Linked DNA regions of Homo sapiens. The protein of the gene in region 1 binds, or shares a complex with, the protein of each later gene. Each region holds a gene or a part of one and is shown in the gene's direction. Other genes may lie near its edges.

Region 1 (11,061 bases):
AAGACATACCCGAGACTGGGCAATTTATAAAAGAATGAGATTTATTGGACTTACAGTTCCATGTGTCTGGGGAGGCCTCACAATCCTGGTAGAAGGTGAAAGGCATGTCTCACATGGCAGCAGACAAGAAGAGAGAGAGAGCTTGTGCAGGGAAACTCCCATTTTTAAAACCATCAGCTCTCATGAGACTTACTCACTATCACGAGAACAGCATGGAAAAGACCTGCCCCCATGATTCAGTTAACCTCCCACTGGGTTCCTTCACGAAACATGGGAATTGTGGGAGTTACAATTCAAGATGAGATTTGGGTGGGGACACAGCCAAACCATATCATTCTGCCCCTGACCCCTCCCAAATCTCATGTCCTCACATTTCAAAACCAATCATGCCTTCCCAGCAGTCCCCTAAAGTCTTAACTCATTTCAGCATTAACTCAGAAGTCCACAGTCCAAAGTCTCATCTGAGGTAAGGCAAGTCCCTTCCACCTACAAGCCTGTAAAATCAAAAGCAACTTAGTTACTTCCTAGATACAATGGGGGTACAGGCATTGGGTAAATACAGTCATTCCAAATGGGAGAAATTGGCCAAAACAGAGGGGCTCAGGCCCCATGCAAGACCAAAATCCAGCAGGGCAGTCAAATCTCAAAGCTCCAAAATGATCTTTGACTTCATATCTCGCATCTGGGTCATGCTTAGGCAAGAGGTTGGTTACCATGGTCTTGGGCAGCTCTGCAGGGTACAGCCTCCCTCTTGGCTGTCTTCACGGGCTGGTATTGTCTGCAGCTTTTCCAGGCACACGGTGCAAGCTGTCAGTGGATCTACCATTCTGGGGTCTAGAGGACGGTGACCTTCTTCTCATAGCTCTACTAGGTGGTGCCCCAGTAGGGACTTTGTGTGGGGGCTCCAACCCCACATTTCCCTTCCACACTGCCCTAGCAGAGGTTGTCCATGAGAGCCCTGCCCCACAGCAAAGTATTGTCTGAACATCCAGGCATTTCCGTATATCCTCTGAAATCTAGGTGGAGGTTCCCAAACCTCAGTTCTTCACTTCTGTGCACCCAGAGTCTCAACACCACGTGGAAGCTGCCAAGGCTTGGAGATTGCTCCCTCTGAAGCCATGGCCCAAACTGTACCTTGGCCCCTTTCAGTCACAACTGGAGCGGCTGGGACACAAGGCACCAAATTCCTAAACTGCACACAGCATGTGGACCCTGGGCCTGGCCCATGAAGCCATTTTTTCCTTGTAGGCCTCTGGGCCTGTGATGGGAGGGGCTTCTCTGAAGACCTCTGACATGCTCTAGAGACAGTCTCCATTTTCCCCATTGTCTTAGGGATTAACATGCAGCTCCTCGTTACTTAGGCAAATTTCTGCACCCAGCTTGAATTTTTCCTCAGAAAATGGGATTTCCTTTTTTTTTTTTTTTTTTTTTTGAGATGGAGTTTCACTCTTGTCACCCAGGCCGGAGTACAGTGGCGTGATCTCGGCTCACTGCAACCTCTGCCTCCCAGGTTCAAGTGATTCTCCTGTCTCAGCCTCCCGAGTAGCTGGGACTACAGGTGCCTGCCACCATGCCCAGCTAATTTTTGTATTTTTAGTAGAGATGGGGTTTCCCCATGTTGGCCAGGCTGGTCTCAAACTCCTGACCTCCCGTAATCCACCCATCTCAGCCTCCCAAAATGCTGGGATTACAGGCGTGAGCCACCGTGCCTGGCCAATTTTCTGAACTTTCATGTTCGACTTTCCTTATAAAACGGAATGCTTTTAGCAGCACCCAAGTCACCTCTTGAAGGCTTTGCTGCTTAGAAATTTCTTCTGCCAGATACCCTCAATCATCCCTCTCAAGTTGAAAGCTCCACAAATCTCTAGGGCAGGGGCAAAATGCCGCCAGTCTCTTTGCTAAAACAACAAGAGCCACCTTTGCCCCAGTTCCCAACAAGTTCCTCATTTCCATCTGAGACCGCTGCAGCCTGGACTTTATTGTCCATATCCTTATCAGCAATTTGTCAAAGCCATTTCACAAGTCTCTAGGAAGTTCCAAACTTTCCCACATTCTCCCGTCTATTTCTGAGCCTTGAGTTCCAACCTCTGCCTGTTACCCAGTTCCAAAGTTGCTTCCGTGCCAAGACCAGCTTGATCAGGGAGACCCTAACCCAGAGGCACTAGAGGAATTAAAGACACACACACAGAAATAGAGCGGTGTGAAGTGGGAAATCGGGGGTCTCACAGCCTTCAGAGCTGAGAGCCCTAAACAGAGATTTACCCACGTATTTATTAACAGCAAGTCAGTCATTAGCATTGTTTCCGTAGATACTAGATTAACTACAAGTATCCCTTATGGGAGATAAAGGGATGGGTTTGGCTAGTTATCTGCAACAGGAGCATATCCTTAAGGCACAGATCGCTCGTGCTACTGTTTGTGGTTTAAGAACGCCTTTAAGCAGTCTTCCGCCCTGGGTGGGCCTGGTGTTCCTTGCCCTCATTCCGGTACACCCACAACCTTCCAGCATGGGCGTCATGGCCATCATGAACATGTCACAGTGCTGCAGAGAGTTTTTTTTATGGCCAGTTTTGGGGCCAGTTTAATGGCCAGATTTTGGGGTGGGGGTGGGAATCACGGGAGTTACAATTCAAGATGAGATTTGGATGGGGACACAGCCAAACCGTATCAGATAGTTGGAAAGTAATGGTTTCTGCCTTTTAGCGGCAGCCTTCAGGGATTTGCTCTGTTGTATTAACCAGAAGAACCTGGGAGCACTGATTCCACACCGGGTCTGGGGACAGGCAGAGGTGGAGAGCAGAGCTTCCCTGGAGATTCTCGGGCCTCATCACCCCCGTCTCTCCTGGCACAGATGGGAAAACACAGGCCTCCCGGGCTGGTGGGAAGATCCAAAAAGTCAGAGTCACCACGGGGAAGTGGGAAGGGGGTCTGCAGGGACTGTGAGGTTTTGGTTTACCAAAGATAGCATGGGCCTCCCAGGCTGAGAAAGGCTTTCCTAAAGCACGCAGTGACGGCCTGTGCTGTCCCACACTTCAGCACAATAAGAAGTGGGGAGGGCCGCACTATCCACTGGCACGGGGCCTTGTCAACCAGGTTCTCCCCTCTTGTTGCAGGTTCTGCCTGGAGCACCGACACCTCAGGAAGAACCAGCAGCTGGCTCGTTCTTCGAAACCTCACTCCCCAGGTGCAATATGGTGCCCCTGCATCACTGAGCATGATCCAGGGAGGGTTCCCGCTTGGCCCCCAATGCAGATGAGGCTGTCTGGTGGGGCAGGATAGTTGGGGGTTCTTGGTCAGGGTCCATAAGTGACGCTGCATGGGAGGAGATGAGCAAGTGCCAGGATTGGCTCCAGCAGCGGCAGCAGATGGGGCCCAGGGGCCTCTTTTAACCATGTTCCTGGTGAATTGTTTGTTTCCCCACCAGAGGCTGGAAAAGTGTGCTCTGTAAATAGAATTGTTTATTTTACAACTAGCCATTCAAGAGTGGTTGGGCCTGGCTGGGCGCAGTAGCTCATGCCTGTAATCCCAGCACTTTGGGAGGCCGAGGCCAGGGATCACCTGAGCCCAAGAGTTGGAGACCAGCCTGGGCAACATAGCAAGACCCCATGTGTGTATTTTTATAACATTTTTTAAAAGAGTCGTTTGGCCACATCAGACTGTGGGGCTAGCCAGTCCCTTCCCGGGACCCAGGCCACACCCACCTGCACGTCTCCCAAGTCTGTTGTCAGCAGCTGGACCCAGGTGCCTTTTGCAAACCAGAGGCTCTGTGCGACGTGCTCTGGTGAAAGGAGAGCAGAATTCAAAATGGGGTTTTTCTCCTTCCTCTGATTAGCCTAACTTATAAAATGTAACTGAAGCATCCAAGTTTTTAGTTACACGTTTGGCCACAGAGATATAAAACGTTAATGTTGTAAAACCACATATTATTAGGCCTTTTAAAGAAAAACATTCCTAGTGTTTAGTGTATCCAATTTCATACGTTTTTTCTTTGGAAGGCTGTAGTGAAAGAAATCAGAAGAAAGCTCATTCATGTCCCTGTGCTTCCTCTATCAGATTGATGGTTCTACACTGCGGACATTGTGTTTGCAACATGGGCCTCTTATCACATTCCACCTGAATCTGACTCAAGGCAATGCTGTGGTCCGGTACAGCTCCAAGGAGGAGGCTGCCAAGGCCCAGAAGTCTCTGCACATGTATGTTTTCTCACAGCCACCTCAGCGCTCCAAGTAGCTCCCCATCCCCCAGAGCATTAGGTTAGGGGTGTTGCAGGGGTGTCCTGAGCCACCATAGCAGAATCCCACAGGCTGGCCACCCTCCCACTTCTGGAGGCTGGAAGTCTGATACCCAAGATGAAGGTGTGGGCAGGGCTGGTTTCTCCTGAGGCCTCTCTCCTTGGCTGTAGACAGCTGCCTTCTCCCTCTGTTCTTATATGGTCGTCTCTTTGTGCATGTCTGTGCCGTAATCTCTCCTTATAAGGACACCAGTCCTGTTGGACTAGGGCCTACCCATGTGACCTCATCTAACTAACTTAATTCCCGCCTTAAAGACCCCATCTCCAAACGTAGTCACATGGGGAGGTACTGGGTGTTAGGACTTCAACAAAGGAATTGGGGAAAGGCGACACAGGTCAGTTCCTCACAGGTATCTTGGGACTTACTGGTTTTTTTCTGCTGCTGAGTTGCTGTGTCTACTCCCTCCCTGTGACACATTCCTACACAGGGCCCAGCAGTGGTCCTCACAGCCAACCCTTCACCCTAGTGAAAGGTTGCTTTTGATAGAAGTACGAGTAGACCTGATCAGTAACATCACTTGAGACGTTGGAACCTAGAAATTAGTCATTCCTGTTTTTAGCCCAGGATGCAAATGACACTGACCCTAAACGAGCCCACATTTAATGATCTGTTCACGCACTTGAAGATGTACTCTGTGTACCAGTACGATGTTGCCACTAGAAGTCTGAACTGAGCAAAACATTCACAGTCTGGGTTTGGAAATAGCAGTGGCAAAACAGAAGCCACAGGATGGCTTCCATGTGGGGCCGTTCCCAATACAGAGAAAGCCAGTGCCACGAACTCAGCAGGACTTGGGGTGGCCCTGTTCACGTGCCCCATCTTGCTGTTGCAGGTGCGTCCTGGGAAACACTACCATCCTGGCCGAGTTCGCTGGTGAAGAAGAAGTGAATCGCTTCTTAGCCCAAGGCCAGGCGCTGCCACCCACTTCCAGCTGGCAGTCCAGCAGCGCGTCCAGCCAGCCGCGGCTCAGCGCAGCGGGCAGCTCCCATGGCCTGGTACGCAGCGACGCTGGCCACTGGAACGCCCCGTGCCTGGGTGGCAAGGGGAGCAGTGAGCTGCTGTGGGGCGGGGTGCCCCAGTACTCCAGCAGCCTGTGGGGCCCGCCCAGCGCCGACGACAGCAGGGTGATAGGCAGCCCCACGCCGCTAACCACCCTGCTGCCTGGGGACCTGCTCAGCGGGGAGTCCCTGTAGGCTCTGCCATCATCAGCACCAGGAGAGCCGACCCCTCCCGGGACCCCTCCCGGCTGGGCGGCCCCACAGACCCGCTGGAACCCAGCAGCGGCCGCCCTTTTGAGTACCTCTGTCCAGGACTGAAGACGAACCTTGGCCGCAGTCCTTGCGAACTGTTCGCAAAACAGTGCGGGCTGCGGTGGGTCAGCGTCACATGCTAATGACAGGATGTTCCTCGTAGCTTTTTATTTTGTGCGTCTTATGTTTGTATAGTGTGTTGTCATTTTGATTTTTTTTTTTTTTTTAAGTATAAAAGCTGCTTAGAATAGTTCTATCATGAAGGGCACTTTTCAGATTGTGGGCTGGAAAGGGTTATTTTATCTGTGGGGGAGGGAGGGAGACGTGAAGCCTATTTAAAATGAGCCTGTGACGATTATGCACATGACCAGAGGCGGCCGGTAATCAGGGCAGAGTCTGGTGTGGACCGCCGGGCGCAGAGCGGCTCCGCGGCGGGAGCTGAGCGGAAGGCGCGGGCTGCGATCTGCTCTCTGTTCCCCTGGATCCGCCTATGCACATTACCCTTGTTTCATTACTTTTTCATGTCATTTTTTTATCCCAAAAAATATTTTTTAAAAGTTAAAAAAAGACATATCAAACATGCAAATACTTGAATCCAGCAGGCCAATAGTGAAATGTGAACACTTTCTAATTCTACACTTCCAGGTTGACATCAGTACACAGAAACAGGCTCTAGGAAAAATTTCTAAGTTCATAGCCTACGTGTGTGTATGTGTGCGTGTTGAAACAGAAGTGTGTGTGTGTGTGCATGTGTGGCGCGTGCTCCTGCACGGCGTGCAGTTTTCTGTGTTTGTGTGTTTGAAAGCGTGTGAGGATTTAACTGTGGGTTTTCCCTTGTATTCAGTATACGCTTTTTTTTTGGCGCATTGGTCAAACGGTTGTTATTATTAGCTTCTAACTTTGCACTGAGTGTCCTCGCCCTTCCTTTAGCTAATCCTATACATTACAGAGAATTCCTAGGACAGGGCTGGCGACAATTCATGTGTAAATGTTTACTCAAGGACTCTGTGACTGCGTTTAAAAAGTACAGTGTATATCTCTGGAGAAATAACATGTATACCTACCTTTAGCAGCTTTTTATTGTGGACTAATGCAAGAAAATTATTACCAGAGTATTGCACCATTTTTCCATTTGGAATATAAAGTTAAAGAGAAAAAAAAAAAAAACTGTTGTTGAACTGTGGCCATAGATACTTGTAAAGAATGGATGGTTCCGTGGAAGGAACAGAAACAAGCACTTGGGCGTGGGTTGTGACTGCTTTTGGGGGAGCCTGGGGTTTGGGCTCCCACCTGTTTACAGACCTTTTTTTCTCCTTCAGACTTTAAAATTTTAAAAATTTAAAAAGGAATTAAAAAAAAAAAAAGACTTCCGTCGTAAAGAAACCTATTTTCAGAATGCAGATGCGTTCCTTCAGAGCTCTGGGACGGGACAGTGTTGTTCCCTCGGCCATCGTCGTGGACTCTGTCGATTGCTTTCGCCCCTTCGTCAAGGTGACAGGCGTTGTGGCCACTGTCTTGCACATGCCGGACGCGCTCTCAGGAAAGCCAGGGCTCCCGAGGGCAGCTCCACACCATTTCATGTATTTTTAAACCCAACTCCTAGCACTGAAGATGTTATTTAAAAAAAAAAAAAACAAAACAAAACAAAAAAATGAAAAAAAAGAAAAAGAGGAAAAAAAAACACAAAGAAGAAAAATACCTAATCTCTAATGTGTAGCAGTTACATATTTACCAAATAATGGACTCAAAAGAAATAGATGTTTGAAGAGTGCTTTATATATTAAAAATTGCTTTATGTTTTAAAAATGATCAATGTTTTGATTGTTTTGCAAGGAAGAAAGACAATGGAATAACATACCTTCAAGTATGTTTTAAAAAATATATATATGAACATTGTGCTCCCTGCCTGCTTGATCAGGAAACTTGTGCATTACATTTTTTTAATTAGCTTTTTAATGGTTTTATCAAAACAAAAAAAATACAAAAAAAAAAAAAAAAGTCCTGCAAGACTGCAGATCCACAAAAGCTGGTTTTATAGAGGATCATGAACTATGCACAAACTGGGTTCAAGACTTTTTTTCTCAAGTTTAGTAGGATATTTAGAAAAACCAACCTTCCTCAGAGTGACTGCATCTCATTGCCATTACATGCGTTCTATATATTCGATGGACATACACCTGCGTATGTATATCCAATATGTGTGCGTGTGAGCATGCGTGTGCGTATGTGCGTCCGACATACCACTTCCCGTGCTGCCGGCGAGCATTGAGTTGTAGAAAAACTGTTGTTTTAAAATTGGGGATGGAAGTCAAGAATATGTTTGTTTGTTTTTGGGTTTTGTTGGGTTTGAGGGGTTTTTTGTTTGTTTGTTTTTTGTTTTTTTTACCTTTTATTTTGAACTTAATATGTCTGTAACTCTGAGATTAAACAACAAGTTCGTGGCTCTTAATGTTTTCCTCATAGAATGTGACTGTTGAAGAACATGCATCGAAAGTTGCTTTCGAAAGTACAACGCTTTATTGAATCTTAATAAATTGCAATTTTTTTCTTGGCTGTTCAAAGTAATGTGTTTTTCATTTTTCAAAAGACACTATGGATGTCTACTTTGCACGCTGCGATTGGGAGAGCTGTCCCGCTGCATGCGTTCCCTCTGTAATTTCCTCAGAGCTCACATACGTACCTCTCTCACGAGTGAACTCAGATTTTCCATTGTTTTGCTTTATTCTATCATTTGCTTTGTGGTTTTGCTGTAAATATTGAAATCTTAATCATCATCGAGAGGCACAGCCAAGCTTTCCAGCTCTCCACCCCCGTGGCCCATCCAAGTCTGTTCATCTGGTAACTTCTGTTGTCTGGGACGGCAGCAAGAAGATGCCGGGGCTTGCCTGGAGTCCTGGCAGAGGAGTGCCACTCACTTTTGCCTAGGGTCCAGTTGGGGCTTAAAAAATATTTGGAGAGAAGAGTAATGAGGATTTTTTGTGTTTCCTAGACATTTTATGCATCTATTTTTGTAAAATCACCTTCGCTAACTTTCACCAAGCACTTTGAGCACAGTGGAACTTCAGAAGCACAACCAGCCTAACCCCAGAATCTCAGGTGGCACAGCTAGAAATTGAGTCCCTTCCTAGGACACTGGCCGTGGCCTTCAGGGTGACCAGTCAGTGCCACCGGGTTGGCATTGGTGTTACAGACAGGCCTCTGAAGACAAACCGAGCACCCCAGCGGCCCCTCAAACTAAGCAAGGATCTTTTTTCTGTCTGCGCTCCCTGGGGCAAGGTCAAAGGTGGACCCGCCCACTGTGGGTCAATTCCTTCGAAAAGATGGGACCCGCACCCCCGCCACAGGCTGGCCCCCCCCCACCCATGGGGAAGGTGGTGTGCTGCTGGCTCTGACCATACTCTTTTGGAAATTGAGAAGGAAAGCATTGAGTGGGACCTAATCCGGAGAAGAAATTAAAGACCAGAAAAAGAAGGAAGCTGGGAATGAAACTCAAAATGCACTTGAACCTGGAAGCGGCAACCCTCAGCTCTGCGCGGCCGAGCCTCAGCAAGAGTTCGTTTTGTGCCTGAGTTACTACTACAGGGGCAAACTGTACCCGTGCCTGTGCGCTGGGAGAACAAGGTCAGCGCCCAAGGGTGTGCAAAGGATGTGGCAGGCTTCATGGAGGAGGTGGCATTTGCCCTGGGCCTGGGAGACCAGGTTGGATTTTGACAGACTGGGAACTCGGGGGACAGGAGGGCAGCACAGTGTAAGCTAAAGCCCTGTGTAGGGACCCCACGCAAAGACCTCGTGGGCCTGGGTGTCCAGGGCACCATTTCCACCCATGGGTGAAAAAGAGGCTTGAGGAAGACAACAGGTTCTTCACCTGCATCTGTGGATATATATTTTTTTAAGTTTATTAAATTTTTTTTTAAATGGCAGTTTCAGACCTGCCCTTTGTGGTTTGTGTTTTTGTTTGTTAATACAGGGTCTCTGTCTCCCACGCTGGAGTGCAGTGATGTAATCTCGGCTCACTGCAACCTTGACCTCAAGGTTAAGCTCCAGCGATCTTCCGACCTCAGCCTCCCAAGTAGCTGGGACCACAGGCATGCATGCGCCACCCCACCCAGCTCATTTCATTTTTTATTTTTGTAGAGATAGGGTCTCACCATGTTGCCCAGGCTGATCTCGAACTGCTGGGAATACAGGCATGAGCCAGGTGCCCAGCCTTTGTTGTTGTTGTTGTTGCTGCTATTTTGGCAACATCACGGCAGAACGGTAAAGGCAGAAAGCACAGTGCCCAGCAGCTAGCAGTGTGGCGTGCCAAGAAGGCTGTTCCAATGGGGGAGAAGCCAGCAGACACAGAGGCATCATGGCGAGCCCCGACTGAGTGTTCAGTGAAGAGGGAAAACAGAGACAGTGGGGCATCCCGAGAAGATCCTCTGCAGGAGTGCGGTGTCTACGGATGGACCAAGAAAACCTACGCAGGATCCACGTGGAAACAAAGCTGCTTAGCTCTGCATATCAGTGCTTCTCGGCGGAGCTGTGGCTGATGGGCTCCTGGTGCAGGACTGGCCCCTGAACAGCACAAGTGTAGTATGCCTGGGCCCCAGGTCATCATGAAAACCAGAAGCAGACACTCAGGAGGCTGAGGCGGGAGGATCACCTGAGCCCAGGAGGTCGAGGCTGCAGTGAGCTGTGATCGTGCCACTGTGCTCCGGGATGGGCAACAGAAAGACCCCATCTCAAAAAAGCAGAAGCACATTTCCGAAGCCCCCCAAGCCCACGGGCGTGAGTGCATGCATGCGTTTGTGACAGCCTGGTGCTCGGATGGGCCCAGAGCAGGGGTTCTCAACCTTGGCCCATTAGAATTACCTGAAAATTTTTAAGATAATTCACATCCGGCCAGGCATGGTGGCTCATGCCTGTAATCCCAGCACTTTGGGAGTCCGAGGCGGGCGGATCACCTGAGGTCAGGAGTTCAAGACCAGCCTGAGCAACATGGAGAAACCCTGTCTCTACTAAAAATACAAAATTAGCTGGGCATGGTAGCACATGCCTGTAATCCCAGCTACTTGGGAAGCTGAGGCAGGAGAATGGCTTGAACCCAGTAGGCGGAGGTTGCGGTGAGCCAAGATCGTCCCGTTGCACTCCAGCCTGGGGAACAAGAGTGAAACTCCATTCCAAGAAAAAAAAAAAAAATTCACATCCAAAATTTTAAAGATAATTCAAATCCAAATCAACTCAATCAGAATCTCTCGGGGTGGGCCTCAGGCACCAGTGTTTTTTTGTTTGTTGGGACAGGGTCTTGCCATTGCCCGTGCTGGATTCAAAACACCTGGGCTCGGCAGGTGTTGTGGTTCATGTCTGTAATCCCAGCACTTTGGGAGGCCGAGGCGGGCAGATCACTTGAGGTCAGGAGATCTTGACCAGCCTGACCATCATGGTGAAACCCCATCTCTACTAAAAATACGAAGATCAGCCAGGCCTGGTTGTATGCACCTGTAATCCCAGCTACTTGGGAGGCTGAGGCAGTGAGC
Region 2 (9,305 bases), on another chromosome or scaffold:
CTGGGAGGGGAGGCCATGGGTTGGGTTAGGAGGAGAGGGGCCAGCGCTGAGGAGACAGGCGGGGAGGGTGCTGTGGGGTGGGGGTGGAGGTGGTTGGGTGCCTGGGTCCTCACTCCCGCCCCTGGCTCCCTCCTCAGAGAAACTTCTCCCTGTCAGTGAACAGCGTGGCTGTGCTGAGGCTGATGGGGAAAGGGGCTGGCCCCCCCCTGGCTGGCACCTCCCGAGGCAGGGGCAGCACGCGGAGCCGAGGTAGAGGGGTGATGGCGTGTCCTGGGGACGGGCAGATCTGGGCCCCTGACTTCGAGAACGTGCAGCAGGTTTCATTGTGCGTCTGGCCTCTTCTCTAGGCCGCGGCCGTGGTGACAGCTGCTTTTACCAAAGAAGCATCGAAGAAGGCGATGGGGCCTTTGGACGAAGCCCCCGGGAAATCCAGCGCAGCCAGAGCTGGGATGACAGGTGGGGCGGGGAGGGGGCATGGCGCAGAGCCGGGCAGGCCAGGGAGGGGAGGCCTGGGCCCTGTCGCTAGAGGGTAACAGAGGCCCACCAGATAAGCCCTGTCCGAGATCCCGGTGCTCCTGACCCCTGGTTTCGTTTGTCCCCTTCCTCCCTCCACTGCCTCAGGGCACAGTGGACAAGGCATGGGGCGGTTGCACAGGGTGGCAGGGGAGGCTGTACTGTTTCTGACCCACACGTTTCCCCTGCTGCAGAGGCGAGAGGCGGTTTGAGAAGTCAGCAAGGCGGGATGGAGGTACGAGGCTGCTGAGGGCGGCGGCCGGGGCGGCAGGGAGGACCAAGATGGGTGGCCCAGTCTGGGGGTGCTTATTTCGGAGGTGTTGGGGGCAGGAGGGCCTGGAGCTGGCCCCCCCAACGTTTCTTGAGGGTCCAGGCACCACGCTGCCTTTCTAATAACTGCCCCTGTCTTCCCGTCTCCCAGCACGATGTGGCTTTGAGGAGGGAGGGGCTGGCCCAAGGAAGGAGCACGCCCGCTCAGACAGCGAGAACTGGCGCTCCCTACGGGAGGAACAGGAGGAGGAGGAGGAGGGCAGCTGGAGGCTCGGAGCAGGGCCCCGGCGAGACGGCGACCGCTGGCGCTCCGCCAGCCCTGGTGAGATTGGGGCCTGGTAGCATTGGCGGGGGCAGTGGGGAGCAGGAACTGTAATGAGAGGGTGGGCTCCTGTAGCCACGGGGAGGGAGCAGAGGCTGGCTGGTGTGGGAGTGGCCGGGACAGCAGCCCTGGAGGTGCTCCGTGAGCTGCAGCAGAGGGGGCCGCTGGCTTCGCTTGGGTACCCACTCTTCTTCTCCCTGACTTTTCCTGTGCAGATGGTGGTCCCCGCTCTGCTGGCTGGCGGGAACATGGGGAACGGCGGCGCAAGTTTGAATTTGATTTGCGAGGGGATCGAGGAGGGTGTGGTGAAGAGGAGGGGCGGGGAGGGGGAGGCAGCTCTCACCTGCGGCGGTGCCGAGCGCCTGAAGGCTTTGAGGAGGACAAGGATGGGCTCCCAGAGTGGTGCCTGGACGATGAGGATGAAGAAATGGGCACCTTTGATGCCTCTGGGGCCTTCTTGCCTCTCAAGGTATCTGTGAGGAGGCGAGGGTGGGAACCTGCCCTTCCGGGGTCCTCTTCCTCCCCACCCACCCCAGCTGTTCTCTGCTCCCCACCCCGGCCCCATGCAGAAGGGCCCCAAGGAGCCCATTCCTGAGGAGCAGGAGCTGGACTTCCAAGGGTTGGAGGAGGAGGAGGAACCTTCCGAAGGGCTAGAGGAGGAAGGGCCTGAGGCAGGTGAGCCGCGGGGTGCCCAGCGGGCCTGGGGCTGGGCCGGGCAGGCACTGGTGTTCTTTGCCGGGCTGGGCATTGGCTGCCCACCTACCTGTAGAATCAGGCTACTTAGATCTGGAAGAAGAGTGCTGAGAGGTGGGGAGGAACCAGGGGGTAGCAGAGCCATGTCTTCAAGGCAGTGTACCAGATAGAAATCAGGCGTAATCAAAATGACCTTTGAAAGTCCCTTGAAGAAGCTGTAGAACCTGGAGTGACGTCTGCGGTGTTGTGTGGTGTTGTGCGATGTTGTGATATGTTCCTGCCGCGTCTGGCAGCGTGGAGGCGAGGGTCAGGGCACCGCATTCCCTCTGCCATTAGTTGAGTTGACCCAAGTGAAGTGGTGGACTCGGCCTAAGGGAGTGTGACCCGCGGTTCCAGCCACACTCAAGGGCTTGTGCTAACTCGCGTGGCAGGCCCAGCCCTTGGTTCTGAACTCTGGCCATCTCCCTCTTCTAGGTGGGAAAGAGCTGACCCCACTGCCTCCTCAGGAGGAGAAGTCCAGCTCCCCATCCCCACTGCCCACCCTGGGCCCACTCTGGGGGACAAACGGGGATGGGGACGAAACTGCAGAGAAAGAGCCCCCAGCGGCCGAAGGTAGGAAGGGAGGATGGCCTACCTCCCGGGTGCGCTGGGGCTGTGGGAGAAAGTGCTCCCCACTCGTGGGGGTGGGCACACAGGGCATTCACATTGAGGAGCCATGGCAAGAGCGTGGTGTTCTGGAGTGAGAGTAGGCGAAAGCTATCTTGTCTCCTCCCCGCCCTTCTTTCCACCTCCTATCTCATGCCTTCCAGATGATATTCGGGGGATCCAGCTGAGTCCCGGGGTGGGCTCCTCTGCTGGCCCACCCGGAGATCTGGAGGATGATGAAGGCTTGAAGCACCTGCAGCAGGTGTGGGGGCCTGAGAAAGCGGGAGGGACCCTTCCCACTTCTGACCTGACCTGCTTGGCCCCAGCCCCGGCCCCAGCTCAAGCTCCATCCCCATCCCCATCCTGATGTTGCTGAGATTGGCAGCTGAGCCTTTCTTCTTTTTCTGGGCATCCAGGAGGCGGAGAAGCTGGTGGCCTCCCTGCAGGACAGCTCCTTGGAGGAGGAGCAGTTCACGGCTGCCATGCAGACCCAGGGCCTGCGCCACTCTGCAGCCGCCACTGCCCTCCCGCTCAGCCATGGGGCTGCCCGGAAGTGGTTCTACAAGGACCCACAGGGCGAGATCCAAGGTACCTGTGTGGGATGGGAGGGCTGCTCAAGGCCGTTCTGGTTCAGGGTGTCTCTGGCATACCCTGTGACCCCAGTGGTTCTCCCGCTCCCTCGCTCCCTGTCCAGGCCCCTTCACGACACAGGAGATGGCAGAGTGGTTCCAGGCCGGCTACTTTTCCATGTCACTGCTGGTGAAGCGGGGCTGCGATGAGGGCTTCCAGCCGCTGGGCGAGGTGATCAAGATGTGGGGCCGCGTGCCCTTTGCCCCAGGGCCCTCACCTCCCCCACTGCTGGTGAGCCGCTTCTCCCCTGCATGGAGGGACAGGGTGTGAGGGGTGCCGGCAGGAGTCCAGCAGAGTCCCCTCCTCCCTGCTGGGGGCACTGGCCGAGCTCTCACCTGAGCAGGGAAACATGGACCAGGAGCGGCTGAAGAAGCAACAGGAGCTGGCCGCGGCGGCCTTGTACCAGCAGCTGCAGCACCAGCAGTTTCTCCAGCTGGTCAGCAGGTATGGGGGGCCTGGGGTGGGCTGGGAGAAGGCCCGGCGCTGGCTCTGTGGCCCACCATCTCCACTGTCCCATTTGCAGCCGCCAGCTCCCACAGTGCGCGCTCCGAGAAAAGGCAGCTCTGGGGGACCTGACACCGCCACCACCGCCGCCGCCACAGCAGCAGCAGCAGCAGCTCACGGCATTCCTGCAGCAGCTCCAGGCGCTCAAACCCCCCAGGTGCGTGGTGCGTGCGAGCCCTCAGGATACAGGGTGGGGGGGGGATGGGGGCAGACCAGAGATGGATTTGGGGTCCTAAGAATCCACAATTTGCTCCTCAGAGGCGGGGACCAGAACCTGCTCCCGACGATGAGCCGGTCCTTGTCGGTGCCAGATTCGGGCCGCCTCTGGGACGTACATACCTCAGCCTCATCACAGTCAGGTGTGTGGCCTGACTGGTCCCCACCCCCAAGGCAGTCTCCGGGTGAAATGGGGTCTGGGGTCTGCTCCCCACCCCCACACGCCCCTAGCTGCCATTCTGGCTGGGGAGCCCACTGCTGCGGCTGGACTAGATCAGTGGGCCCAAGTGCCCACCTGCAGCCGCCTCTGCCCCCCTGCCCCCTGCAGGTGGTGAGGCCAGTCTTTGGGACATACCAATTAACTCTTCGACTCAGGGTCCAATTCTAGAACAACTCCAGCTGCAACATAAAGTGAGTGGGCATCCTGGGGCTGAGGCCCTGGGAATGAAGGGTGGACCGAGGCAGGCCCCAGGCTGTCCCCTGCAGCTCTCCCCTCTGATGGGCCACTGGTCTCAGTTCCAGGAGCGCAGAGAAGTGGAGCTCAGGGCGAAGCGGGAGGAAGAGGAACGCAAGCGTCGAGAGGAGAAGCGCCGCCAGCAGCAGCAGGAGGAGCAGAAGCGGCGGCAGGAGGAGGAAGAGCTGTTTCGGCGCAAGCACGTGGGTGCTCCCAAGCCTCAGCTGGCTGGGTGGACAACCCTCGCCAGGTCCCCTCACCATGTCCCCCTCTTAGGTGCGGCAGCAGGAGCTATTGCTGAAGTTGCTACAGCAGCAGCAGGCGGTCCCTGTGCCCCCCGCACCCAGCTCCCCGCCCCCACTCTGGGCTGGCCTGGCCAAGCAGGGGCTGTCCATGAAGACGCTCCTGGAGTTGCAGCTGGAGGGCGAGCGGCAGCTGCACAAACAGCCCCCACCTCGGGAGCCAGCTCGGGCCCAGGCCCCCAACCACCGAGTGGTGAGCAGGCCGGGAACCTCCCGGGCTCCCCCTACAGTTTCCAGGGTGGCACAGGGAGGGGGATACTGAACCCAGACTTGTGCAGCCCCAGCCCCAGTCCCAGCCTCTCCTGTGATGGCAACAGCTCTTGTGGCCCTCACCTCACCTGTCTCCCTTTGCCACCTAAACAAGCCTCCCCATCCGCTTTTCTGGGGTGCCTTTGTTTGAGCCACTCTGATCTTCTGCCATCTGTAGCAGCTTGGGGGCCTGGGCACTGCCCCCCTGAACCAGTGGGTGTCTGAGGCTGGGCCACTGTGGGGCGGGCCAGACAAGAGTGGGGGCGGCAGCAGCGGCCTGGGGCTCTGGGAGGACACCCCCAAGAGCGGCGGGAGCCTGGTCCGTGGCCTCGGCCTGAAGAACAGCCGGAGCAGCCCATCTCTCAGGTGGGCGTGGCACCTGGAGGCTCCGGGATGGCCCTGAGGGGGAAGGTGGCAGACCCCCCCAACCCCTGCCAGCTGATTTCCAACCCTGACTCACCCTCCCCCTTCAGTGACTCATACAGCCACCTATCGGGTCGGCCCATTCGCAAAAAGACGGAGGAAGAAGAGAAGCTGCTGAAGCTGCTGCAGGGCATTCCCAGGCCCCAGGACGGCTTCACCCAGTGGTGCGAGCAGATGCTGCACACGCTGAGCGCCACGGGCAGCCTGGACGGTGGGCGAGCGGCTCCCAGGAGGTGGGCGGGACCTGGGTCTCCAGACCCGGCCAGGGGGCCCTGACAGCCTTCGCTCATCCTGCAGTGCCCATGGCTGTAGCGATCCTCAAGGAGGTGGAATCCCCCTATGATGTCCACGATTATATCCGTTCCTGCCTGGGGGACACGCTGGAAGCCAAAGAATTTGCCAAACAATTCCTGGAGCGGAGGGCCAAGCAGAAAGCCAGCCAGCAGCGGCAGCAGCAGCAGGTGAGGCAGCCGGCACCAGCAGCTGGGGTGGGCTTGCCTGGTGCCTCCTGACCTTCACCCTCCTCTCCGCTGCCTTAGGAGGCATGGCTGAGCAGCGCCTCGCTGCAGACGGCCTTCCAGGCCAACCACAGCACCAAACTCGGCCCCGGGGAGGGCAGCAAGGCCAAGAGGCGGGCACTGATGCTGCACTCAGACCCCAGCATCCTGGGTGAGCTGGGCTGGGGCAGGAGCGGGACTTCCTTGGCACAGGGCAGGAGGAGCCCAGGAGAGAGCTCAGACGCAGCTTCTCCCCGGCTTCAGGGTACTCCCTGCACGGATCTTCTGGTGAGATCGAGAGCGTGGATGACTACTGACCAGCCCGGACCCCCAGCCCCTGGGCTGTAGGCCAGGGCAGCCACAGCGGCGTGGACCGAGGGTCCCAGCCTGCAGGCTCCCCGCAGAGAGCACAGGAAGAGGCAGGGGCGGGGTCCCCAGCACTTGTTACAAACACACGATGCACCTTAACTCACCCACCACGAGGCACTTTACAGACTGGGGGAGGGGGTTTTTCTTTTTATTTTTTTTTTTAATTTTAAACGACTGAAGAAAACATTAGGAGAGGCAAAAATATTGTTAAAAACTAGACTCTAAACACCCCTTCCTGCTGTGAGGATAGTGGGTGTGACAATGGAAGGTCCACAGAGGTTTTTGTTTTTTGGTTTTTTTTTTTTTTTTAAGAAAAAAAGATGAAAAATGAAAAAAAAAATGGTTAGGAGGCTGAAAGAAAAAACACACTGTTATTTTGGGGCAGTGGGGACACAGGCCCCGTGGACCTGTCCTGCCTGGCCCCCAAGGCCATACTTACCCCCCAGAAGGCGGGCCATGGGGTAACTGGAAGCTGGGGGCCAGCAGTTTGCACAGGAGGCCTGTCTGAGCCCCACCCGCCAGACCTGTTGTGAGCAGCTCCTGTCACTGAGGCTGGCTGAGGTGTCCGGGGTGGGGCCAAAGTAGCCCCTTGGCTTCGCTGCTTTGGGGGACAGTTGCACAAATTGGACGAGTGGCCCCAGCTCTCTGGCTGCCATCTTGTGCTGGCCGAGTAGACGGGAGGGGCCAAGCCGTGCCAACCTCTCTGGCTGGCAGGGTGGGGCAGCAGGACTCTGGTTCTGGTGAGGGGCGTCTCCCACTGCTGCCATTTTGGGGGACACCCTGGGTTTGAACCTGAAAGCCCCAGCTCTCTGCCTTGCCACGTGAATGTATTCTTTGGGCCACAAGCCCCCGCCTCACCCCTGCCTGAGCTGCCTCACCCCTGTGAGCGGCGGGGGTGGATGATTGCTCCAGAGGCTGCAGAGAGAAGGCTGAGCTGTTTCTCCAGTGAAGGGGGCAGGAGGAGGGGCCTCAAAGGCAAGGAGTGGGTGGCTTTGGGCTTAGGGTTGCAGTAGAGGGGCTGCCGCCCGGGGCCCCAACCTGTAGCCAGCTCGTAAGATGTGGACCACCCAGCTCTGCACCTGACCCTTCCGCTGACCAAATGGGAGAGGAGCAGGTGGCCTTCCGGGTCTGATATGATGCGCTTTTTACCGTTGGGTAAGGTTGGGGTGAAGAGAAGTGTGCGGCTCCTGGGTCAGAGGAGGCTGCCCCTTCTATTGCTCACCCACTTCTTATTCCCGGTCCCCTACTTGGGTTCGTCTCCGCCCATTTTGGGTTTTGTAACAGTTTTGTCTTTTGGGTTTCTCATCCAGCTCCTCCCATTGACCTCATTGCTCAGAGTGCAGTATTAGGGCAAGGCTTCGCCACTGCCTCCCTCCATGAATGTATTTCTCCCTCCTGCCCTGGGGACATGGGGAGTGGCCCGTTTCTTTCCCCATCTAGTCCCAGAAAGATGGTGTTTGGTTTTCTGTTGTTGGATTTTTTTTTTTTTTTTTTTTTTTTTGCACCAAAGTGGCAACTAGGTCAGTGTTGGGGGATCAAGCTGGCCTCGGGGTGGGGGGCCCCCACCTGCCTCTCCCTGGTTCCCACAGTGTTAGCGTCCCTGAAAAGACAATATTCTCTCTAAAGCAATAAGGGGTGACGGGCCGGGGGGAGTGTTTGCTGCTGCTGGCCCCCAGCTCCCCTTCCCTCTTGCCAGGTGTGGGGGAGACTCCTGTTGTGACTGAATGTAACCCCCCCACCCCTGCCGCAGCCAATGCAGGGGAAGGGGGACACTCTTCCTGTCTCTTCTCCCCAGCTAAAGAGACTTTGGACTTAGGGGGCCCATGAGCCTGGAGAGGCCTTAACCCTGTGAGGAAGTATAGGGGGAGCCCTCTCCCACCCCCATCCCCTTCTGAGAGTGGTCAATGTTTACAAGCCCCTGAGCCCCCCTGCCCAGGGACTCAGACCCTGTTGCTGTCCTTCCCCGGCCCCGGTCTTCCTGGGCCCTCGCTGCTCCCCTGCCCTTCCTGGGGTTGGGGTGGGTGCAGGGGTCACCGTGTTCCCTGTCTGCCTTGTACCCACAGTCTCCCCGCCCCCTCTCCACCCTGTGTGACTTCCCTCTCTTTTACCTGCTCCTGTAAATACTCCCTTCTCCCAATAAAACTTGGTGTGTGTTCTCCCGTTCCGCCTCCACTGCTCGTTATCTGGGGAGAGCCATGGGGATGAGTGGCTCTGCACAGAGCTGGGAACTAGGAGCTCTGAGCAGTGCCCGCCTGGTCAGGCTGGCTCTGGTCAGCAGCCTGACGGGGGAAACCATGGTGAGGGCTGCTTATCCGAGAACCTCTGGACGGAAGGCTCTGGGCTGGGGCTTCAGCTTTGCTCTGAGGGAGAGTGGGGACCCCACCCCCAGCCCCAGCTGCCTGGCAGGCCCCATACCTTCCCCACCATCCACCCCCTCAGCAGCCCTCAGGCAACAAAGTCCAGAAACAAGGAGAACACAGCAAGGGCAGAGACCAGGTACAGAGTTGGAATTGGCTCCTTTATGGAAAAACTGAAAATATAATAAAAATTAAAATAAAACCAGTTTTAAAAAAGCCAGCCCCTGGGGTTTCCACCTCCTGCCTCCGGCCCTCCAGAGGGGTGAGGCCCCAACCCCAGGGCAGCAGAAGGATGAGGGCCTCCTGCTCCTCCTCTTCCCCCATTCCATCCCCTTCTTATCTCCACAGTGGGGGCCCCGGGAGGAACCAAACCTGGGTGGGAGGGCAGGGACCCAAGGCCCCGTGGCCCGGGGAAGGGGGCTGGGATTGCGCCAGCCCCGCAGCCCTGGCCTGTAGTGTGGGCATGGGCAGGGCCCCTCCTGGCCTGGGCCCAGTGGGGGTGGGGCCATTAGTTCCAGATCTTGAGGAAGGAGTCCCAGGAGCCCGTGGCCACAGCCATGCCATCGTCGGTGACCCCGAGGCAGCTCACGCGGTTGTCGTGGCCAGCGAGGACTCCTGTGAAGAAGAGAGAAGTCAGAACCCATTGGGCCTGGGCTCCAGGTCCCTGCCCACCCAGCCTGGGCCCCAGCTGTCACCTGCACGGTCGCCCTTCATGGCATCCCAGATGTTGCAGTTGAAGTCGTCGTAGCCAGCGAGCAGCAGCCGTCCGCTGCGCGAGAAGGCAACAGAGGTGATGCCACAGATGATGTTGTCATGGGAGTACATGAGGAGCTCCTGATCGGCCCGCAGGTCGAAGAGGCG
Region 3 (11,061 bases), on another chromosome or scaffold:
GGTGTCTTGCTTTTTTTAATATGTCAAATAATAAAGAATTAGGAAATCTAATACTTTTTTTTTTGACTCTTGCTCTGTCACCCGGGCTGGAGTGCAGTCACGTGATCTCGGCTCATTGTAGCCTCCGCCTCCCGGGTTCAAGCAGTTCTCCTATCTCTACCTTGAGTAGCTGGGATTACAGGTGTGCGCCACCATGCCCAGCTAATTTTTGTATTTTTATTAGAGACGGGGTTTCACCGTGATGGCCAGGCTGGTCTCCAACTCCTGACCTCAAGTGATCCAGCCACCTCGGCCTCCCAAAGTGCTGGGATTACAGGTGTGAGCCACTGTGCCTGGCCAGGAAATCTAATATCTTACTGCCATGCTAGCATGTCACATCAAGCCCTCCACTAGAGCAAAAAAGTACCATTTTGCACAAAGATAGATGATATAAAACATAGAAAGTGACATCATGTTTACATCTCAACCCCCAAATTTAGCTACTGCCTTTTATATATTTCAACTGTCATGCTTCTTAATGTCTTATAATTAGAAGCTGTTTGTAAAAGTTGATGTTAACTACCTACCGTATGAGTAATGCTGCATAAGTTGACCACAAATATGTGAATATGTCATATTTTCTTGACTTTGGCCTCAGGAGAGAGGCACATTCAGAAGAAAATCTGCCTTGGCCCATACATCTTCTAAATTTCTGTAATCAAATGTGATTTTTAACCTTTTCTGCCCCACTTGCCTGAGATACCACCCGCCTCAGTTACCTGTCTCTCCTACTTTAGAGGGAGTTAGGGGAAAACATGTCTTCAGAAATAAATGCTTCCTCTTCCAGGTAGTTCACCTGTGTCTTTAAAAAGAATTTTTTTTCCCTGTCTTTCAAATTCCTGTATTACCTATGTCTTACCAAAGAGTCCAACTATGTATTCCTTCCACTCCTGTTGAAAGTCGGGTAGGCCAAGGCTTAATAAATACTTGTTTCTTAATTGATACAAAGAAAATCAAATTGGTCTTAGCACAATAGCTCATGCCTGTAACCCTAGCGCTTGGGGAGGTCAAAGAGGGAAGATACTTGAAGCCACAAGTTTTAGACTAGCCCGGGCAACATAGCAAGACCCTATCTCTACAAAAAATAAATTAGCCAGGCATGGTGGTATGTGGGCCAGTAGTCCCAGATACTTGGTAAGTTGAGGCAGGAGGATCACTTGAGCCCAGGAGTTGAGTTAAAGTGAGCTTATTCATTGTGCTGCTACACTTCAGCCTGGGCAATGGAATGATATACTGTCTCTATAGAAAAGGGAAAAAATCAAATTATTGGGTAAAAAATGCAACTCTTTTGTGCTAGAGCTGAGAATAAAACTTTTTACAGCCGTTTAAAGTGTACCTCCTTAAATGGAAGGAGGAATCCTTCAGGGGAGGGAAGGTGTTTACCTTCTTAATAATAAAAGGTCTTTCAATGGAAAAGTATACCTACCTGGGGCATAGAAGGCTGGGAGGGAGGAGTCAAGTTACGGAGCTTTGAAATTTTTTTCATGGCTTTGTATGTTGAAATTTGAAATGTATAACGTGAATGTTGTATGGAATATCTTTGATTTATGTAAAAAAATTTTTTAGGGCCTGCCTTAAGTGTGAAAGTAATGACTGATGAAAGTGGAAAATCCAAAGGATTTGGATTTGTAAGCTTTGAAAGGCATGAAGATGCACAGAAAGTAAGTGGTCTGTATTCAGCAGGAAGAAGGGGGTACAAAGTTGAGTTGCTCTTGTGTTGAAGTCTATGTGCATACTAATAGCTATTTGACATGTTCTTATATTTTCAGTTATTTGCATTTTATGCATTAGGTTTGAGAGTATAAATTGGTAACCTATATTGTCCCAAAACCTTGAGATTTTGGGATGGGTTTGTCTTTAGCTTTTGTGACTTAACAAATTTGTCTTAACTGTTAAGGAAATGAACTGTAAGTTGAAAGTTTTGTGATTTTTTTTTTTTCTTTTTTTTTGGGGGGAAGGCTGTGGATGAGATGAACGGAAAGGAGCTCAATGGAAAACAAATTTATGTTGGTCGAGCTCAGAAAAAGGTGGAACGGCAGACGGAACTTAAGCGCAAATTTGAACAGATGAAACAAGATAGGATCACCAGATACCAGGTTCATTTTTAATTGAACAACCAAAATAAGACAGGGATGAGGAAACCTATTTTACGTTGATTTCAGTTACTTCCAGGTAGCTGGAGGGTTTGAGAGGGGAATAGGAGAAGAAATATGGGGTAAAATAATAGACCCGATGTACTTAGGTACCACCATGGTTTTCTTTTTCTATAGTTTTCTTTTCTTCTTTTTAGGGTGTTAATCTTTATGTGAAAAATCTTGATGATGGTATTGATGATGAACGTCTCCGGAAAGAGTTTTCTCCATTTGGTACAATCACTAGTGCAAAGGTAAGAAAACATATGGTTCATTTATTTGAGGTCTAGTAAAAATTCATACATGTAGATATATGTATATAAATTTTGTATTATTATAGCCACTAGAGAGGTGTTTGCTTCGTTACTTCTAAAACTTAAATTCACATTTGAACTGGTTGTCATAGCCTAATGGTTAACTTAAAAATGGCAAGCACTGAACTCTTTGCTAAGGAAGGCTGATATCCTCACATGATATGCACTATTCCAACAACTAGTCATTTTGCTAAAGCAAGCAATTTATTAGGGACTTATAATTGTTACTATAGTTCTGATCTGTTTATTCATTTCTACAATTCATTCTGGGTAGTCAAGCCCCAGTTCCCTCCCCTGCCCCCTAGCAGTAAGAATAGAGATCATATTTTCTTTTATTTGAAATCAGAGATTAAGAAACAAAGCAGTAGTATTCTAGTACAAATTCTGAAATCTTGATTTAAGAAGTTCTCTTCTAGATGTTTTTGTCTAGCATCCGTGGGCCAAGAGTCCCCCTATATGCAAGGTTTTGTGCATACATAATTTTGCTGGGGTTGGGGAAGAGTGCATAGAAAAAAATTACAACTCAACTGAACTGGAATGACGCTGTGGCTGATCTTTCTAGTCAGCTTTTCCTGGCAAGTCCGAGGAAGCTTCTGTGAGAGTGAGGAAATGTTAGGGGAAAGGTGGTTGAATACAAGTAAGATGGAAGTGCCATGGTTGTCTTGTGTTTCAGATTATGCTTTTTATGTAAGAGTATTGGAGTACGATAGAATTTATTCCTGAATGTTTTTGTCTTCAGTGTGTTCCCTGGATATTGTTTAAATTGAGTGTTGTGCATCAGCATATTTTGAATGTATGAAGCATGCATGTTTTTCTGTTTCTTGAGACAGGATCTCATTATGTTGCCCAGGTTGGAGTGCAGGGGCATGCCACAATCACAGCTCACTGCAGCCTCAGCCTTTCCTGGGCTTAAGCCAAGCTTGTCCAACCCGCTGCTTGCAGGCCACATGCGGCCCAAGAATGCTTTTAATGCAGTGCAACACAAATTCTTAAACTTATGAGGTGTTTTTTTTTTGTCTTTTTTAAAGACGAGTCTCACTCTCGCCTGGGCTGGAGTGCGGTGGTGCAATCTCAGCTCACTGCAGCCTCCGCCTCCCGGGTTCAAGCGATTCTCCTGCCTCAGCCTCCTGGGTAGCTGGGATTACAGGCATGTGCCACTACGCCCAGCTAATTTTTGGTATTTTTAGTAGAGATGGGGTTTCACCATGTTGGCCAAGCTGGTCTTCCAACTCCTGACCTCAGGTGACCTCCTAAAGTGTTGGGATTACAGGCGTGAGCCACCGTGCCTGGCTGGTTGTCTGTCTTTTTATTGATTAAGGGAACATTTGTTTTATTTTTTTGAGATGGAGTGAAGTGGTGTGATCTCAGTTCACTGCAACTTCCACCCCCTGGGTTCAAGCAGTTTTCCTGTCTCAGCTTCCCGAGTAGCTGGGATTATATGCACCTGCCACCATGCCCGGCTAATTTTTGTATTTTTAGTAAAGACGGGGTTTCGCCACGTTGGCCAGGCTGGTCTCGAACTCCTGACTTCAGGTGATCCACCCGCCTTGGCCTCCCAAAGTGCTAGGATTACAGGCGTGAGCCACCGCGCCCGGCCAAACATTTGTTTTATATTGGAAATATTTTCTTCGAATTTTCCACTTTATAGACCTCACTTTGTGTGTGTGTCATCTTAGAAAGGTTTTCTCTCTATTTCTACATTCTATGTTCAGATTCAGAATCTACCTGGCATTTAAGATTTTTCAATGTAATGTGAATTAAGAGTTCTACATTTTTTCATTTGTCCCAGTGTGTCATGTATTGAGTAGCCCAAAGTCCTTTTTCCCCAGTACTTTAAAATGTTAACTTTAGCACAGTGAATTCCCATAATTGCTTGGGTATATTTCTGGCCTCTGTTTTATTACCGTTTGTTCCTATGCCACTCGCATACTGTTAATGTAGTTTTATAGCATGCTTATATATATTGCTGGCCTAGCGAGTGGTTCTTTGCAAGTCTTCATTGCTCATTTAAAAGGTCTTTGCAATCAATTTTAGAAGAACCTTCCTCTTGAGTGTTCTTTATACCGTAATATTTATGGATCCTCTGCTCTTGAATGTAAAAACTTTTATTTTAAGATGTGGGTATTGTAAGATTCAACTACTTTTTTCTCAAAGGCATAGTGAAGCATCTTGTCAGCTTGAATTGTTAGAATAGTCAAAATTTAATTGGGAAATGCTTCCAGTGGTGCCCAAAAGTCAATTTAGTAGGCCTGGGATGTATTTATTTAGATAATTAAATTTCAATATTGAAAATCCAATCAAATTCAGTATCTAAAATCTTTAAAAGTTTCTGTGCAGCCTTCACTTCTGTCAGTTCTCTGACCTGGCTAGGGTAATGCATATGTGTAGTTTGCCCTTAATAATTGGGTATTAAGGAAAAATTGTGAACTCAATGGGTAAATACAAGATGATTAAGCATTAACAGGGTTTAGTTATTTGATTCAGTGATTTATAATTGTCTAAATTGTAACGCTCTTTTTTTGCTCCTCATTCTACCATTACGTTAACTTTTTTTTTCTTTTTTTTAATAGGTTATGATGGAGGGTGGTCGCAGCAAAGGGTTTGGTTTTGTATGTTTCTCCTCCCCAGAAGAAGCCACTAAAGCAGTTACAGAAATGAACGGTAGAATTGTGGCCACAAAGCCATTGTATGTAGCTTTAGCTCAGCGCAAAGAAGAGCGCCAGGCTCACCTCACTAACCAGTATATGCAGAGAATGGCAAGTGTACGAGCTGTTCCCAACCCTGTAATCAACCCCTACCAGCCAGCACCTCCTTCAGGTTACTTCATGGCAGCTATCCCACAGGTAGGTTTTAGAAGGCAACCAGAACCATGAAGGTTTTCGTATTTGGTCATTTCTAGTGTTTTTTGTGCCCCTCGCCCCGCAAATGTGAAACATTAAGAAAGGGGAATTATGATTGAGTAGGAAAAAATGCTTGAGTGTGAAGTCCTGGTAAATGTTTTGAAAAAGTACATATAATTTATTGCATTATTTGCTTTTTTCTTCAACTGATAAACTCATGTGCTTTTTTTCCCTGCAGACTCAGAACCGTGCTGCATACTATCCTCCTAGCCAAATTGCTCAACTAAGACCAAGTCCTCGCTGGACTGCTCAGGGTGCCAGACCTCATCGTAAGTCTTTTTTCTTTTAATTAAGGTTGGGGATTGAGTTAAAAATAACACATTGGGTAAATCAGCTCTTCTATGTCAATGTTAGGTTAACTATTGCATTTCACATAATTTGTGGTTATGGATGTTCATTTTTATAGCATTTAAAAGCAGTGCTAAGATAGTAATGTCTACAGTGGTTTGATTTCCCTTTATAAAAGTTTTGGGAATAGGTACAGCTCTTCATTTTTTATTTATTTATTTATTTATTTATTTTCGAGACAGAGTCTCGCTCTGTTGCCCCAGGCTCGAGTGCAGTGGCTCAGTTTCGGCTCACTGCAACCTCCACCTCCCAGGTTCAAGCGATTTCTCCCTGCCTCAGCCTCTGGAGTAGCTGGGATTACAGGTGCCCGCCACCACGCCCAGCTAACTTACGCATTATTAGTAGAGATGGGGTTTGACCACGTTGGCCAGGGTTGTCTTGAGCTCCTGATCTCAGGTCATCTGCCCACCTCAGCCTCCTAAAGTGTTGAGAGTACAGGCGTGAGCCATGGCACCCAGCCAATTTCATATTTTGTCAGGCCACAGTTTTAAAGGTCTCGTTCCATTTAATCATGTATGAGAATCAGAGTCGTGGTATTTTATGTCTTGTCCTGTGGAACAGTATGTTATATTCCAAGAGCACTTAGAGTTTATTTTTTTAGACAGAGTCTCACTCTTTCTTCTAGTCTGGAGTGCAGTGGCATGGTCTTGGCTTACTGCAGCTTTCACCTCCCGGGTTCAGGTGATCCTCCTGCCTCAGCCTCCCAAGTAGCTGGGACTACAGGCACACGCCACCACGCCCAGCTAATTTTTTAAATTTTTTGTAGAGACGGGATTTTGCCCTGTTGGCCAGGCTGGGAGCACTTAGAATTTTATCATGATTATGTTTCAGGTATATTTATAAGTGTGGGCGGCAAACCACCCAGGTGCCAAGGCAAGAGACCGAGGACACGAGCTGTTCCAATATAATAAAATATAAAATAAGAATAGTTATACCAGATATAGATCTTAGATATGATTATATATGAATATCATTAATCATTAGTTTGTAGCAATTACTCTTTATTCCAATATCATAATAATCCTCACTCTATAATCATAACCTAGGAAAAACCAGGCCATACAGAGATAGGAGCTGAGGGGACATAGTGAGAAGTGACCAGAAGACAAGAGTGCGAGCCTTCTGTTATGCCCAGACAGGGCCACCAAAGGGCTCCTTGGTCTAGTGGTAACGCCAGCGTCTGGGAAGACGCCCGTTGCCAGGCGGACCGAGGTCTAGCAGTAGCGTAAGTGTCAAAGGAAAACACCCACTATTTAGCAGACCGGGAAAGGGAGTCTGCTTTTCCCCTGGGGAGTTTAGAGAAGACTGCTCCTCCACCTCTTGTGGAGGGCCTGACATCAGTCAGGCTTGCCTGCAATTATCCAGAGGCCTAACCGTCTCCCTATGGTGCTGTGCTTCAGTGGTCACGCTCCTAGTCTGCCTTCATGTTCCATCCTGTACACCTGGCTCTGCCTTCTAGATAGCAGTAGTAAATTAGTGAAAGTACTAAAAGTCTCTAATATGCAGAAACAATGGCGTAAGCTGTCTTTCTCTCTGTCTCCTCTCCCTCTCTGCCTCGGCTGCCAGGCGGGGAAGGGCCCCCTCTCCAGTGGACACGTAACCCACGTGACCTTACCTATCATTGGAGATGACTCACACTCTTTACCCTGCCCCTTGTGTTTTGTTTCCAATAAATAACAGTGCAGCCAGACATTCAGGGCCACTACTGGTCTCCGCGTCTTGGTGGTAGTGGTCCCCCGTGCCCAGCTGTCTTTTTTTTTTAAATCTCTGTGTCTCGTGTCTTTATTTCTGCACTCTCTCGTCGCTGCATACAGGGAGAAGCCCACCGACCCTGTGGGGCTGGTCGCTACATATAAGTACTCGTCCTTGTATGAATTAATGTTTTTACTTATTGATGCTCTGAGTCTGGGAAAATGGCAAGTGTTAAGACTCAGCTTTAAAAAGTTTTGTCACTTTTTAGTCTTTTATGCAAACCTCAGATCGAAGAAGACAGCATAAACACTTTTCACTCAGTAAGTTTTCCCAGTTAATGTATATTCACATCTTTAAAATGCAGCATTCCAAAATATGCCCGGTGCTATCCGCCCAGCTGCTCCTAGACCACCATTTAGTACTATGAGACCAGCTTCTTCACAGGTTCCACGAGTCATGTCAACACAGCGTGTTGGTGAGTCTTAATCCTTCCTTTAAAAATTGATCACCAATTTGAAAGAGCAAGATAAAAATACAAAATGTTCTTATTTTTTAGCTAACACATCAACACAGACAATGGGTCCACGTCCTGCAGCTGCAGCCGCTGCAGCTACTCCTGCTGTCCGCACCGTTCCACAGTATAAATATGCTGCAGGAGTTCGCAATCCTCAGCAACATCTTAATGCACAGCCACAAGTTACAATGCAACAGGTATGGATTTAATGATTTCTTAATAAAAATCACATTTCTTGGGTGAAATCAAAGGTGTGAAGACAGCTGGGCACAGTGGCTCACACCTATAACCCCAGCACTTTGGGAGGTTGAGGCAGGCAGATTGCTTGAGACCAGGAGTTTGGGACCAGCCTGGGCAACATACAGGACCCTGTCTCCACAAAGAAAACTAGCTGGGTGTGGTGGCATAAGCCTGTAGTCCTAGCTGCTAGGAAGGCTGAGGCAGGAGGATTGCTCGAGCCCAGGAGTTTAAGGCTGCAGCAAGCTGTAATCCCTGCTGGGTGACAGCAAGACTCTGTCTCAAAAGAAAAAATGTGAAGACAGCTGCATGATAGATTCTTGAGAGCTTAGCCTATCTGGAACATTCTGCTAATATGATAGTATGTAAAATGTCTTACGCTTTTGGAATTGGACAAGCAGCGAGAAATTCACATCCTAAATCACCACGCCTGGTCTGAAACAACTATTACAAGTAGCTATGGGCCAGGCGTGGTGGCTCACACCTCTATGTAATCCCAGCACTTCAGGAGGCCAAGGCAGGTGGATCACTTGAGGTCAGGAGTTTGAGACCAGCCTGGTCAACAGGGTGAAACCCCAGCTCTAAAAATATAAAGATTAGCCAGGCTTGGTGGCACATGCCTGTAATCCCAGCTACTGGGGAGGCTGAGGCAGGAAAGTTGCTTGAATCCGGAGGCGGAGGTTGCAGCGAGCCAAGATTGTGCCGTTGCATTCCAGCCTGGGCGACAAAGTGAGACTCCATCTCAAAAAGAAAAAAAATGTATCTGTGATACATAGTATATAATAACTACTTTGGCTTCTTTCTAATTCGCTCACTCAACTTCTCCACCTCATGTTTCGATGGAAGTCTACCACTTCAGCAGATGTCCATTGATGACTATTTGTATTTGCCATCTTTTTCTGTGCTTTAAACTTAAGAGTTCTCATTTTCTGTCTAGCCTGCTGTTCATGTACAAGGTCAGGAACCTTTGACTGCTTCCATGTTGGCATCTGCCCCTCCTCAAGAGCAAAAGCAAATGTTGGGTGAGTACTTCTGTCCCACCTTGTCAGTTCAGAAAGACTAGAAAATATAGGAATCACTTAGGCACTAGGTCAATCAATTGACAGCTAGGGCAGTGGAATTGATCTGAATTGGCATGAATGATTATGATAGTACAGTTGGTCTGCCTAATTAAAACCACTGGAAAGCCAATAAGAAAATGTATTGTTAGTAATAAATAGGGTAGTAGGGCATTACTCACCATGGGCCCTCACTACATTTTTGAGAGAAGGAATTTGAAGCAAATGAGAAGAAAACTTGTGACTTTGCCTGAACACCGATTTAACAACCTAATGGTAACATTGCTTAATTGGCAAGCTGATAATATCAAGAGTTAATTGCCTTGTGGCAGATTTTATTCTGTCTTCCCATGAAGACATAATGAAATTGTGGATTATGGGTTATTATATACGTGAGACAGAAGTATGGTTCTTAAACCCCAGTTTAATGTGGTAATTCAATGCAGTTAAAAACTTTTTTTTATTGAAGGGAGTTTTTGAATGTTTCTGTTCCTAGGTGAACGGCTGTTTCCTCTTATTCAAGCCATGCACCCTACTCTTGCTGGTAAAATCACTGGCATGTTGTTGGAGATTGATAATTCAGAACTTCTTCATATGCTCGAGTCTCCAGAGTCACTCCGTTCTAAGGTGATTTAAATTTATTTACCAAGTTGCCTCTTACACAGTTATTACGTGGCTTTTTATGGGGACTTAATTGTACAGAACACTTACATCGTGTTATATATAAGCCATGTACAGTTGTAAAGTCTGCATAATAACCTGTGGCGCTATTTATCCCCATTTTATAGATAGGTAAACTGAAACAGGCTGAATAATTTGCCAAATGCTCACACAGCTCTTAAGTGGCAGAGCCTGGCTTCAAATCCCATCAGCTCCAACAGCCATACTCTCAACTGCTGCTGCTTTCTCTAGTGGAGAAAGAGAAATATTTTTCGAGTGTGGGGAGGACAAGGAAAGAGTAGTGCAGGGGAGCGATTCATAATTCTAGAATAGTGGTGTAATAGAACTCAAAATTGAATGGATATAGTTGTTTAGTGTAACAATTTATACTTTCATTTGAGGGAAGAAACTTATCTTTGTTGGGAATTGGTATGTTACCATTATGAAACTCTTTATTTCCATTCCTTTCCTGAACCAGTTTATCTGTTTTCCCCTTTTTTAGGTTGATGAAGCTGTAGCTGTACTACAAGCCCACCAAGCTAAAGAGGCTGCCCAGAAAGCAGTTAACAGTGCCACCGGTGTTCCAACTGTTTAAAGTGAGCTTTTCCCTCTGGTTTGTTGTTTTAAGCTTGTTTTCTTCATCTTTTATAAAGTTTGTTGAGCATATTTTGAAATGTACATAGCAAAAGATCATTTTACAGTTCATTTAAATGTATTGCTAATTTTTCAAGGAAAAGTGGAACTAACTATAGAGGAATTAAAGGAATTTTACCCGTTAACTGTTGGATTTTTAAAATCCCAGGACTTTCAGGTGGTGTTTTTTTTTTTTTTTTTTTTTGAGATGGAGTTTCGTTCTGTCGCCCAACCTGGAGTGCATTGACGCGATCTCGGCTCACTGCAACCTCCACCTCCCAGGTTCAAGCAATTCTCCTGCCTCGGCCTCCCGAGCAGCTGGGATTAACAGGCCCATGCCTGCCACCGTGCCCAGCTAATTTTTGTATTTTTACTAGACTTGGGGTTTTGCCATGTTGGCCAGGCTGGTCTGGAACTTCTGACCTCAAGTGATCCGCCCACCTCGGCCTCCCAAAGTCTTGAAATTACAGGCGTGAGCCACTGCGCCCTGCCAGATTTTGTATAGTAATATATATATAAAATGACCTGTCACAG

The links.
Region 2: the proteins of TNRC6C (region 1) and GIGYF1 are in contact, whole or in part, in a crystal structure (PDB 7RUQ), measured with the Homo sapiens proteins. Residues at the interface, in NP_001136112.2 of Homo sapiens: Arg1719, Pro1720, Pro1721, Pro1722, Gly1723, Leu1724, Thr1725; in NP_001362694.1 of Homo sapiens: Tyr479, Asp481, Pro482, Gln487, Phe490, Trp498, Tyr503, Phe504, Leu508.
Region 3: the proteins of TNRC6C (region 1) and PABPC1 are in contact, whole or in part, in a crystal structure (PDB 2X04), measured with the Homo sapiens proteins. Residues at the interface, in NP_001136112.2 of Homo sapiens: Pro1593, Pro1594, Glu1595, Phe1596, Pro1598, Gly1599, Val1600, Pro1601, Trp1602, Leu1605, Gln1606; in NP_001425211.1 of Homo sapiens: Pro555, Gln556, Lys559, Gln560, Gly563, Glu564, Phe567, Gly579, Lys580, Thr582, Gly583, Met584, Leu586, Glu587.

The regions. Positions count from the first base shown.
Region 1 is NC_000017.11:78,099,361-78,110,421, forward strand, and holds the end of TNRC6C (trinucleotide repeat-containing gene 6C protein), read left to right. Parts: intron 1-3,113; coding exon 3,114-3,184; intron 3,185-4,053; coding exon 4,054-4,193; intron 4,194-5,124; coding exon 5,125-5,485; 3' UTR 5,486-9,462; downstream 9,463-11,061. UniProt on the Homo sapiens protein: Plays a role in RNA-mediated gene silencing by micro-RNAs (miRNAs). Required for miRNA-dependent translational repression of complementary mRNAs by argonaute family proteins.
Region 2 is NC_000007.14:100,678,449-100,687,753, reverse strand, and holds the end of GIGYF1 (GRB10-interacting GYF protein 1), read left to right. Parts: intron 1-137; coding exon 138-249; intron 250-347; coding exon 348-456; intron 457-707; coding exon 708-748; intron 749-934; coding exon 935-1,105; intron 1,106-1,320; coding exon 1,321-1,574; intron 1,575-1,674; coding exon 1,675-1,780; intron 1,781-2,272; coding exon 2,273-2,410; intron 2,411-2,607; coding exon 2,608-2,705; intron 2,706-2,859; coding exon 2,860-3,031; intron 3,032-3,137; coding exon 3,138-3,304; intron 3,305-3,413; exon of another isoform or gene 3,414-3,416; coding exon 3,417-3,517; intron 3,518-3,596; coding exon 3,597-3,734; intron 3,735-3,835; coding exon 3,836-3,936; intron 3,937-4,121; coding exon 4,122-4,204; intron 4,205-4,309; coding exon 4,310-4,450; intron 4,451-4,523; coding exon 4,524-4,742; intron 4,743-4,976; coding exon 4,977-5,164; intron 5,165-5,271; coding exon 5,272-5,432; intron 5,433-5,518; coding exon 5,519-5,682; intron 5,683-5,760; and 6 more. Other genes in the region: GNB2 (guanine nucleotide-binding protein G(I)/G(S)/G(T) subunit beta-2), read right to left, coding at 8,953-9,059, 9,140-9,305. UniProt on the Homo sapiens protein: May act cooperatively with GRB10 to regulate tyrosine kinase receptor signaling. May increase IGF1 receptor phosphorylation under IGF1 stimulation as well as phosphorylation of IRS1 and SHC1.
Region 3 is NC_000008.11:100,703,726-100,714,786, reverse strand, and holds part of PABPC1 (polyadenylate-binding protein 1), read left to right. Parts: intron 1-1,605; coding exon 1,606-1,700; intron 1,701-1,997; coding exon 1,998-2,135; intron 2,136-2,329; coding exon 2,330-2,425; intron 2,426-5,055; coding exon 5,056-5,328; intron 5,329-5,563; coding exon 5,564-5,654; intron 5,655-7,789; coding exon 7,790-7,900; intron 7,901-7,981; coding exon 7,982-8,136; intron 8,137-9,113; coding exon 9,114-9,198; intron 9,199-9,730; coding exon 9,731-9,861; intron 9,862-10,396; coding exon 10,397-10,489; 3' UTR 10,490-10,490; exon of another isoform or gene 10,491-11,061. UniProt on the Homo sapiens protein: Binds the poly(A) tail of mRNA, including that of its own transcript, and regulates processes of mRNA metabolism such as pre-mRNA splicing and mRNA stability.